Regions from separate parts of the Homo sapiens genome. Here region 2 is linked to region 1. Evidence: fine-mapped expression QTL. A gene starts in region 1. The other region holds a variant in brackets. All regions are shown on one strand. Distances are between the middles of the regions.

What was found.
Region 2: its variant is fine-mapped to the expression of ZNF335 in whole blood (TOPMed, PIP above 0.99).

The regions. Positions count from the first base shown.
Region 1 is chr20:45,969,731-45,974,114 of GRCh38, forward strand. ZNF335 (zinc finger protein 335) reads right to left here and starts at 2,473. Exons shown (of 28, transcript NM_022095.4): 1 at 2,392-2,473; 2 at 1,480-1,730. The coding sequence starts at 1,680. RefSeq lists a silencer at 1,985-2,104 and an enhancer at 2,875-3,094.
Region 2 is chr20:45,916,680-45,921,063 of GRCh38, forward strand. No RefSeq gene overlaps it. Among named protein-coding and RNA genes, the nearest start is that of PLTP, 6.7 kb to the left of the region's middle. The variant T/C (reference allele first, on the strand shown) is at 1,858.

The DNA of each region.
Region 1 (4,384 bases):
TGGGTATGGGGCAGGGCAGCCTGCCAGCTCCCACTTGCTAGACAGAGCTCTCAGGCCCAAGGACATGGTCAGTGGAGCCACTCATGCCCTCAGCCCCACGGAGGACCAGTGAGAGAGGCCCTCCAGTCACAGAGTCCCCCAGGAAAAAGTCACAGGGTCCCTGGATCTCATCAGGGAATACACAAAAATAAGAGAAGGGACTCCTAAGCCACAGCCAGGGGGAGCTATTTTCTTTGGGCTTTTGCATAAATCGTTCCCTCTGCCTGAAACTCTTCCCAGCATCACCCTATGGCTAAATCTTACCCAGCCTTCTCACCACCATTTAGCTGGTACCTCTTCTAGGAAGTCAATGCTGGCTTTGAGGCCAAGTCAGGACTTCTTCATCCTCAGTGCTGCAGCTGCCTGTGTCCCCAGCACCACACCACTGTGGGGTTCATTGTGCCTTTTAACAGCCTCCATGCCAGACTGTGCCCTCCACAAGGGCCTGGACCAAACTTGTCTTTTCCTCTGCTGTATTTCCAGGGCCCAGCACACGCTGAGCACATGGTAGGCCCCCATCTCTGCTGAACTAATGAAACCCCAGGACCCCAAAGTGATGACCACTGCTGTGTACTTCTATCACGTGATATACTGAATATGACCATTATCTTGCATATAAGAATGGCTAATACTTACTGAGTGCTTACAATGTGCTGAGCACTGTTTTAATTATTAGCTTTGCATATGTTAATTCATTTCATCCTCACAAAAACTCTATGAGGCAGGTATATTTACCATTCCCACTTTACAGACGAGGAAACAGAGCTAGATGTTGGGTAGCTTGCTCAAGATCACACGGCTAGGAAGTGGCACAGCCAGGAGGAGATGGTTTACAAAATGTTTGCAAGAGGATGTCTGGTGGGAGCTCACAATCAAGCACCCTTGAAAGCAAGTATTTCTGCTTTACTTTAGCCGGGATACTGAGGCTCAAAGAGGTCTCCCAGTAAACTGGAGGCAGGACCCAGTCTTAACCCAGGGCACTTGCGTTTTTTTTTTTTTTTTTGTAGAGATGAGGTCTCGCTATTTGCCCAAGCTGGTCTCCAACTCCTGGGCTCAAGTGATCCTCCCACCTCAGCCTTCCAAAGTGCTGGGATTACAGGCGATGAGCTACCACTCCTGGCCTAGACATCTGCCTCTCAAAGTGTGAGGACTGTGGGTAGTATAGTAGCTAAGACCACAGCCTAGATTTGAATCCTGGCTCTGTCTGCACTCTGTACCTCGGCATCCTTTTCTATAAGATGTGGGAAAAAATGGTATGTGTCTTAGAAGGTATGAAGCTCAAATGAGAAAATCCATTTTAGGGGTTTGGCTTGGTGCCTGGCTCACAGTAAACCAGAAACACCAAGTATTAGCTACAAACAAGCCTTGTTTCCTCTTGGCTGTCAGGCACTGCTGCTCGCGGTCCTTGCCTCCACCCACGCCGTCCAGCCGGGTCCATACCTGAGAACGGCTGCCGCGGTCCGAGCTTTGCCCCACGCCAGAGTCATCGGCCTCTGCCTGCCCCGGGGCGGCCGCGGCGTCGCTGCTGTCGGCGGACACGGCTTCTGAGGTGCCCACACCCAGGCCGCTCTCAGAGGGCTCCTCGGGCCGGCCAGGCCCAGGGGCCGCGTCGCTGCTGCTCTCCACCTCGTTCTCCTCCATCTGATCGGCGGGCTGCCTGACAGCGGGGCGTAGGGTCTGGGAACTTCACTCTGAGAAGAGAGGTGACCGTGGCTGGAACAAGTGGGCCATCTCCCCAGCCCCGGCAACCACGGCCACCCATTTGCACCCCTGCGCCCATTTTGCAGATGCGAAGATTGAGTCTCCGACGGGGCGGAGCTTCCTGGTGTATTGCGAGGGGAGCTCGGGAAAAACTTGACGGAGAAGCTGTGCTTCCCAGGCTAAGGCCCTTCCCGGGAGGGTGGTCAATGGCTGGTAATCTTGACCCTTTCCCTCGCCCCCACGATTCTCGTGGAGCGTTCCGCTCTGTGAGCCCCATCCGGGCCCAGTGGTTCAGCCCTTCGGCCCCCGCGTCCCCCCGGGTTGCAGGGCCGGTGGTACAGCCCGCTGGCCCCCTGGGTCAGTGGTTCGCTCCCCCCCGGTTCCCCTGCGGAGGCGGCTGACAGCGACGGTCTCGGGGCCTGGCGATTTGGGGCTGTCCCCGGCGCTGCCTGTGCTCCAGGCCCGACGCCATCTTGTGGTGGCGCCGGGTTTCCGCTCAGGCAAGTGCGAGAGCGACTAAAGGGCCTGGGACCCCGGGGCCCTGTTCGGACAGCCCCGCCGGCCTGGGACCTCGCCTCCGGGTATCCCCGCAGTGTGACCTCACTCCACGGCAGGGTACGGTGGGGCCGCCTAACTCTACCCGAAGCTCACCCGAGGCTTTCGTAGCCACGTTCCTCTCTGACTCCGGCATCGACGAGGTCGCCATCCTCTTTCCTCCGCTGCGGAGGAACCCATCGGCCTATTGTAGGCCGGAACTACTTCCCCCGCTGGCCCCGGGAAAGACACATTTTCAGTGTTCCGGAAGGTCGCTCCGAGGCCTCAAAACCATAATCGGGTCTCAACAGACTCTGGGACTTTATACGTCGCCCGGTGTTTGGCACTGAGCCCACTATGGTTTGGGGACTACTTTATCTCGGCGGAGTGTTACGTAGGAAGTGGTTGTGACGTCATTCTGGTCCCTTCCCTAGGCCGCAGGGTTGGGCGCGGCGAATGCGCGCCCCGCTCTCTTGGGGCGTGGCTCCCAGTGGGGGGCGTGGCTCCCGGTGGCTTGGCCGCGCCCCTCCTACAACAGCCCGGAAGAGCGTGTGGCCGCGGGCGACTTTGGCTTGGCCAAAGAGGAATTCATGTTGTCAGTCATTTTACCTGACTCATTACTTATTACTTAGCGCGCTGCTGCAACCCAATCGAGCTCTGCCCGTTAGGTTTGATGTGTTTTGTTGGGAAGGGAATGTATAATTATTGTACAGATAGGGAAACTGAGGTCTGGGTATGGGAAGGGCTGGTCCAAAATCACATCCAATAAAGGGACTCAGGAGCTAAGTACGGATGGCAGGAGTCGGGGAAATGGAAAGAAGTTAATGCTTGTCCCTTAGGTTTGTATACATATTTGTTAACATTAATAGAGCTGAGGCCGGGCGCTGTGAGTCACGCCTGTAATTCCAACACTTTGGGACGCCAAGGCAGGAGAATCGCTTGATCCCAGGAGTTCCAAACCAGCCTGGGCAAAAGAGCGAGACCCCATCTCTACAAAAAAAAGAAAAAAAAGAAAAATTAGCCAGGCATGGTGGCGCGTGCCTATAATCCCAGTTGCTCGGGAGGCTGAGGTGGGAGGATCGCTTGAGTCTGGGAGGTTGAGGCTGCAGCGAACCGTGATCACACCACTGCACTTCAGCCTGGGCGACAGAGCGAGACCCTCTTTCAAAAAATAAATAAATACAAGTCAACTACCTATCCTTTAAAAGTGGAGAAAGAAAAAAAATTTTAATTAAAAGTCAGCTGCCCTTAAGGTATGTCCTTCCTCCGGAAATGTCACCTTCTGTTTTAAGACTTTTAGCAGTTTGCAGTGGAAGAGCACAAGAGGGAGTAAGGCGCTCTGGTTTTTGTCCCTAAGTCTCTGTAGTTCCATAGGCTATTTTCCTTAATTGAAAGATACAAATTTTGGGGGAAAAAAATCTCAAAAAAACTCCTAAGCAGGCTGGGCGCGGTGGCTCACGCCTGTAATCTCAGCACTTTGGGAAGCTGAGTCGGGCGGATCACCTGAGGTTGGGAGTTTGAGACCAGCCTGATCAACATGGAGAAACCCCATCTGTACGAAAAATACAAAAGCAGCTGGGCGTGGTGGCGCATGCCGTAATCCCAGCTATTCAGGAGGCTGAGCCAGGACAATAGCTTGAACCCGGGAGGCAGAGGTTGCGGTGAGCCGAGATCACGCCATTGCCTTCCAGCCTGGGGAACAACAGCGGAAACTCTTGTCTCAAACAAACAAACAAAAAGTCCTAAGGAGAAGACCTATTAATAAGGAGAAAAGGTCCGGGCTCGGTGGGTCACACCTGTAATAACCAGCACTTTGGGAGGCTGAGGCCGGTGGATCACTTGAGGTCAGGAGTTCGAGACCAGCCTGGCCAACATGGTGAAACTGTCTCTACTAAAAATACAAAATTTCACTGGGTGTGGTGGCGCGCGCCTGTAGTCCCAGCTACTCGAGAGGCTGAGGCAGGAGAATCGCTTGAAGCCCAGAGGCGGAGGTTGCCGAGATTGTGCCATTGCGACAAGAGAGAAACTCCGCTTCAAAAAATAAATAAATAAATAAAAATAAAAAGGACAAAGGGTGCTTTGAGCTGTTATTTGTGTGCACTTGTGTATG
Region 2 (4,384 bases), 53 kb before region 1:
GTGCAAGTTCTTCTTGCTCAGAGCCTTTGCATTTGCTGTTCCCTCTACCTGGAATGCTTTTCCACCTGATCTTCCTTGTCATTTTGTCTCAGCTTATTTTATTTATTTATTTTTTGAGACGGAGCTTCGCTCTGTCACCCAGGCTGGAGTGCAGTGGTATGATCTCGGCTCACTGTAAACTCTACCTCCAGAGTACAAGCAATTCTCCTACTTCAGTCTTCTGAGTAGCTGGGATTACAGGCGTGCACCACCACGCCCAGCTAATTTTGTATTTTTAGTAGTGATGGGGTTTCACATGTTGGCCAGGCTGGTCTCGAACTCCTGACCTCAAGTGATCTGTCCGCCTCAGCCTCCCAAAGTGCTGGGATTACAGGCTCGAGCCACCACGCCCAGCATTTTGTCTCAGTTTAAATGGCGTTTTTTCAGAGAGGCCTTCCCTGCCTGCCTATCTATTAATCGCTCTCAATCATATCAGCCTGGTTTATTTTCTTTATAGATTTTATTACTATTGAATATTTTCTTTCTTGTTTGTTGTCTGTCCCCGTGAGAGCTGGAATTTTGTTCAACACTGTGTCCTTAGTGCCTAGAACCATGCCTGGCACACAGTAGGTACTGACTAAATATTTACTGAGTGATTGAACTGGTTTGGAGTCCTTGAATGTCCCTGGGCAGCAGGCGATCCCTATGCCAACCCAGATCCTTTATCTCCTCCTGTACCATGTTAGCCTCAGTTCAATTGACCCTAAACACAGCTCTGACCGGCCGGGTACAGTGGTTCATGCCTGTAATCCCAGCACTTTGGGAGGCTGAGGCAGGTGGATCACCTGAGTTCAGGAGTTCCAGACCAGCTTGACCAAAACAGTGAAACCCCATCTCTACTAAAATTACAAAATTAGCCGGGTGTGGAAGCAGGTGCCTATAATCCCAGCTACTTGGGAGGCTGAGGCAGGAGAATCGCTTGAACCCAGGAGGTGGAGGTTGCAGTGAGCTGAGATCGCACCATTGCACTCCAGCCTGGGCAACAAGAGTGAAACTCTGTCTCTAAATAAATAAATAAATACAGCCTTGACCTGGGCTGGTGGAGGAGAAGGTGCAGTCACTGGCCCTGAATCCAGGGCCTTCCCCACTCAGCCTGTCCCTCTTTAATACATTGATTTCCCTTTTCCTCTAAAACATATGGTGCACACAACCCTCAAACGTTAAGAGTGATGTCAGCAGATGTGCAGCGTGGGATGGGCTCTGGCAGCCTCCTCGAGTGCTCATCACCGGGCTTGAGACATGGAGAGAGCCAAATCCCCAAATCCCTTCCCACTTTCACTCCTGGTTTTGTTGTTGTTTGTCTTTTGAGGCAGAGTCTGGCTCTGCCTATTAAGCTGGAGTGCGGAGGCACAATCTTGGCTCACTGCAGTCTTGACCTCCTGGGCTCAAGCAATCCTCCCACCTCAGCCTCCTGAGTAGCTGGGACTATAGGCATGCACCACCACGGCTGATTAATGTTTGTAATTTTTTTTTTTTGTAGAGATGAGGTCTCACTGTGTTACTCAGGCTGGTCTCCATCTCCTGGCCTCAAGGAATCCTCCCACCTCGGCCTCTGAAAGTGCTGGGATTACAGGCATGAGCCACTGCGCCCGGCCTCATCCCTGGCTTTGAAGAGAGAAGGAGAGGCTTCCCAGCACTCAGAGGGACAGGAAGGAAGTGCCTTTCCAGCCTCAGTTGTGTACCCAGCACAGCAATACTGGTAAGAAATCAAGATAGCAAAGTCCTGCTTCTGCCTTTTTCTAGAACAGATGTCAGCAAGCTGTTCCTGTAAAGGAATCAGGATAGCAAAGTCCTGCTTCTGCCTTTTTCTAGAACAAA[T/C]GTCAGCAAGCTGTTCCTGAAAAGGCCAAAGTGTACATATTTTAGGCTTTCCACACCCTGTGGTCTCTATCGCAGCTGCTCAGCCCTACACTTTAGCATGAAAGCAGCCATAAACAATATCTAACGAACAGGCTGGGAGCTGGAGTTAGCACACAGGCCATAGTTTACCAACCCCTGTTCCAGAGGAAATGAAAAATCTCTTTCTGGGCTAGGCATGGTGGCTCATGCCTATAATCTCAGTACTTTGGGAGGCTGAGGCAGGAGGATTGCTTAAGCCCAGGAGCTCGAGGCTGTAGTGAGCTATGATTGTGCCACTGAACTCCAGTCTGGGTGACACAGCAAGATCCTGTCTCTAAAAAAAAAAAACACTTTTTGAACCTCAGTTTCCACATCTGTAAAATGGGATGATCTAGTACTTACCTACCTCCCTGGGTGGCAGTGAGGATTTAAAGTGATAAAGTATACAAAGTGTGGAACCTAGTACTTGGTGGCGGGGTGGGGCGCTCTCACTTTGTTGCCCAGGCTGGTCTAGAATTCCTGGGCTCGAGCGATCCTCTCGCCTTGGCCTTTCAAAGTTCTGGGATTACAGGCATGAGTCACTGTGCCTGGCCTGATTATTAGTATTAATAGTTGTCATAGTTGCTTAACAAACAGAAAGTGCTTTTTTGAGACAGGGTCTCACTCTGTTACCCAGGCTGGAAGGCAGTGGCACGATCATGGCTCACTGCAGCCTCATCCTCCCTGGGCTCAGGTAATCCTCCCATCTCAGCCTCCCGAGTAGCTGGAACTATAGGCATGTACCACCATGCTCAGCTAACTTTTAAAATTTTTTTGTAGAGATAGAATCTCACTGTGTAGACCAAGCTGATCTCAAACTCCTGGCCTCAAGCGATCTGCCTGCCTCGGCCTCCCTAAGTGTTGGGATTACACGCGTGAACCACCACACTTGGCCAGAAAGTGCTTCCACATATTAACTCACTTACACTTCATAACATCCTACAAGATAGGTATCCTCACCCCCAGTTTACAGATAAGGAAACTGAGGCCCAGCAGTTATAAGCTCAAGTCAGTCTGGCCCCAGAGCCTATGCTTGTAACTAGGTTTCTCTCTCTGTCTCTCTCTTTTTCATTATCCCATGTAACTCTCACAGCAGTGCCTTGAGATAGCTATTATTGGCCCTGTTTTGCAGATTTGGAAACTGAGGTTCAGTACGAGGAAATAACTGGTCCAAGGAAGTAAACACGGGCTCCACTGACCACAGGAGGCCAAGCTGGATTGCTGCCCAACATGTCAACATGCACTGCTCTGGCCCCCTCCTCCCTCGCTGTGCCTCCAGCTGTGTTTTCTTTGGATCTCTGCATGGCTTGGAGAAGCTGCGTCAGCCCATCTCCTCTCCTGCCCAGTCCCCACCCCCAACGCCCACCCCAGCTACCCCTCAGGGAGTGACCCCCTTCTCCTCACTCTGCCTGAGCATATGAGCACTGCAGCTCATGCGCCTGTGTTGGTCAGCATGGGTGCACCTGGGGACATGTGACAGGGGACCCAGCTGGAATGAGAGGAGGATTATCTGAGGAGGACAAATCTCAGGCCAGGAAGACCCCGATTACATCTCTCCAGACAGGCGAAATGATCATCTGTTTCCAGAATGCAACTGGACAAAACAGTCCGCGTGAGGGCTGGACATTTACCAAATGGGTAAAAGGAATCTAAAAGGGCTGGGGCTTGCTGAGTTCAGCCAGGCCAAAGCTGTGGACTGACTTTCCGTGATTTCTAAAGCTGGGAGATCTGTTGTTTTCTTCTTTCTTTCCCATTTCCTCCTTGAAGGCCAGTCCATTTTCTGTGTGAAGAACAGGCCACTTGGTGTCTGAAGTCACCTCCAGATTAGAAACTCAAGGATTCTAAGGTTCCTTATGAGGTGTTGCTTTCCCTGGGTCCTCGGTCCTAGGGCATTGTATCCCCACACCTGGTGCCTCTCCATCAGGGCTCGGATGTCAGCCTTGGGCAGCTCACTCTCTCTCTGACTTCCCTTTTCTTTTCTTCTTCATATCCCACCCTTCTTCCCAGTTTCTATGCCTCTGTCAGTCTGCTAGCTGACTCTGACTCATGGGGACCTCTTTCTGTGGTCCTCTAAGCCTCCTAACCGTCTGTGCTTTCCTTATACTCCACGTGGGCTTTCCAGCCTCTACTTGTTTTGAGGAAGAGGTGGAGGATCCATAGCAGCTCTGTCTAGATGTTTGGATTTCATAAGCCAGTCACAACATTTCAAAGTAAGTGAAGGGAGGGGGCCCCAAAGGAAGGGATTTTTTCCTTTGATAATAAGGATAGGCCACCATCTTCAGCCTAAGCTTGTCCCTTTTCTGCAGGGCTTGCTGAAATGTTGCAAGAAGTGGTCAACATAATGCAACTCGAATTTTTCCAGGTGTCCTAATACTGCAGGAGTCCCCCGCATAACCCAGGCTTTGGTCTAACAAGATTGCCAACCCCTAGCCAGGAATCATGAGGATGTCACCGCCCTCTGGCCTTCTTC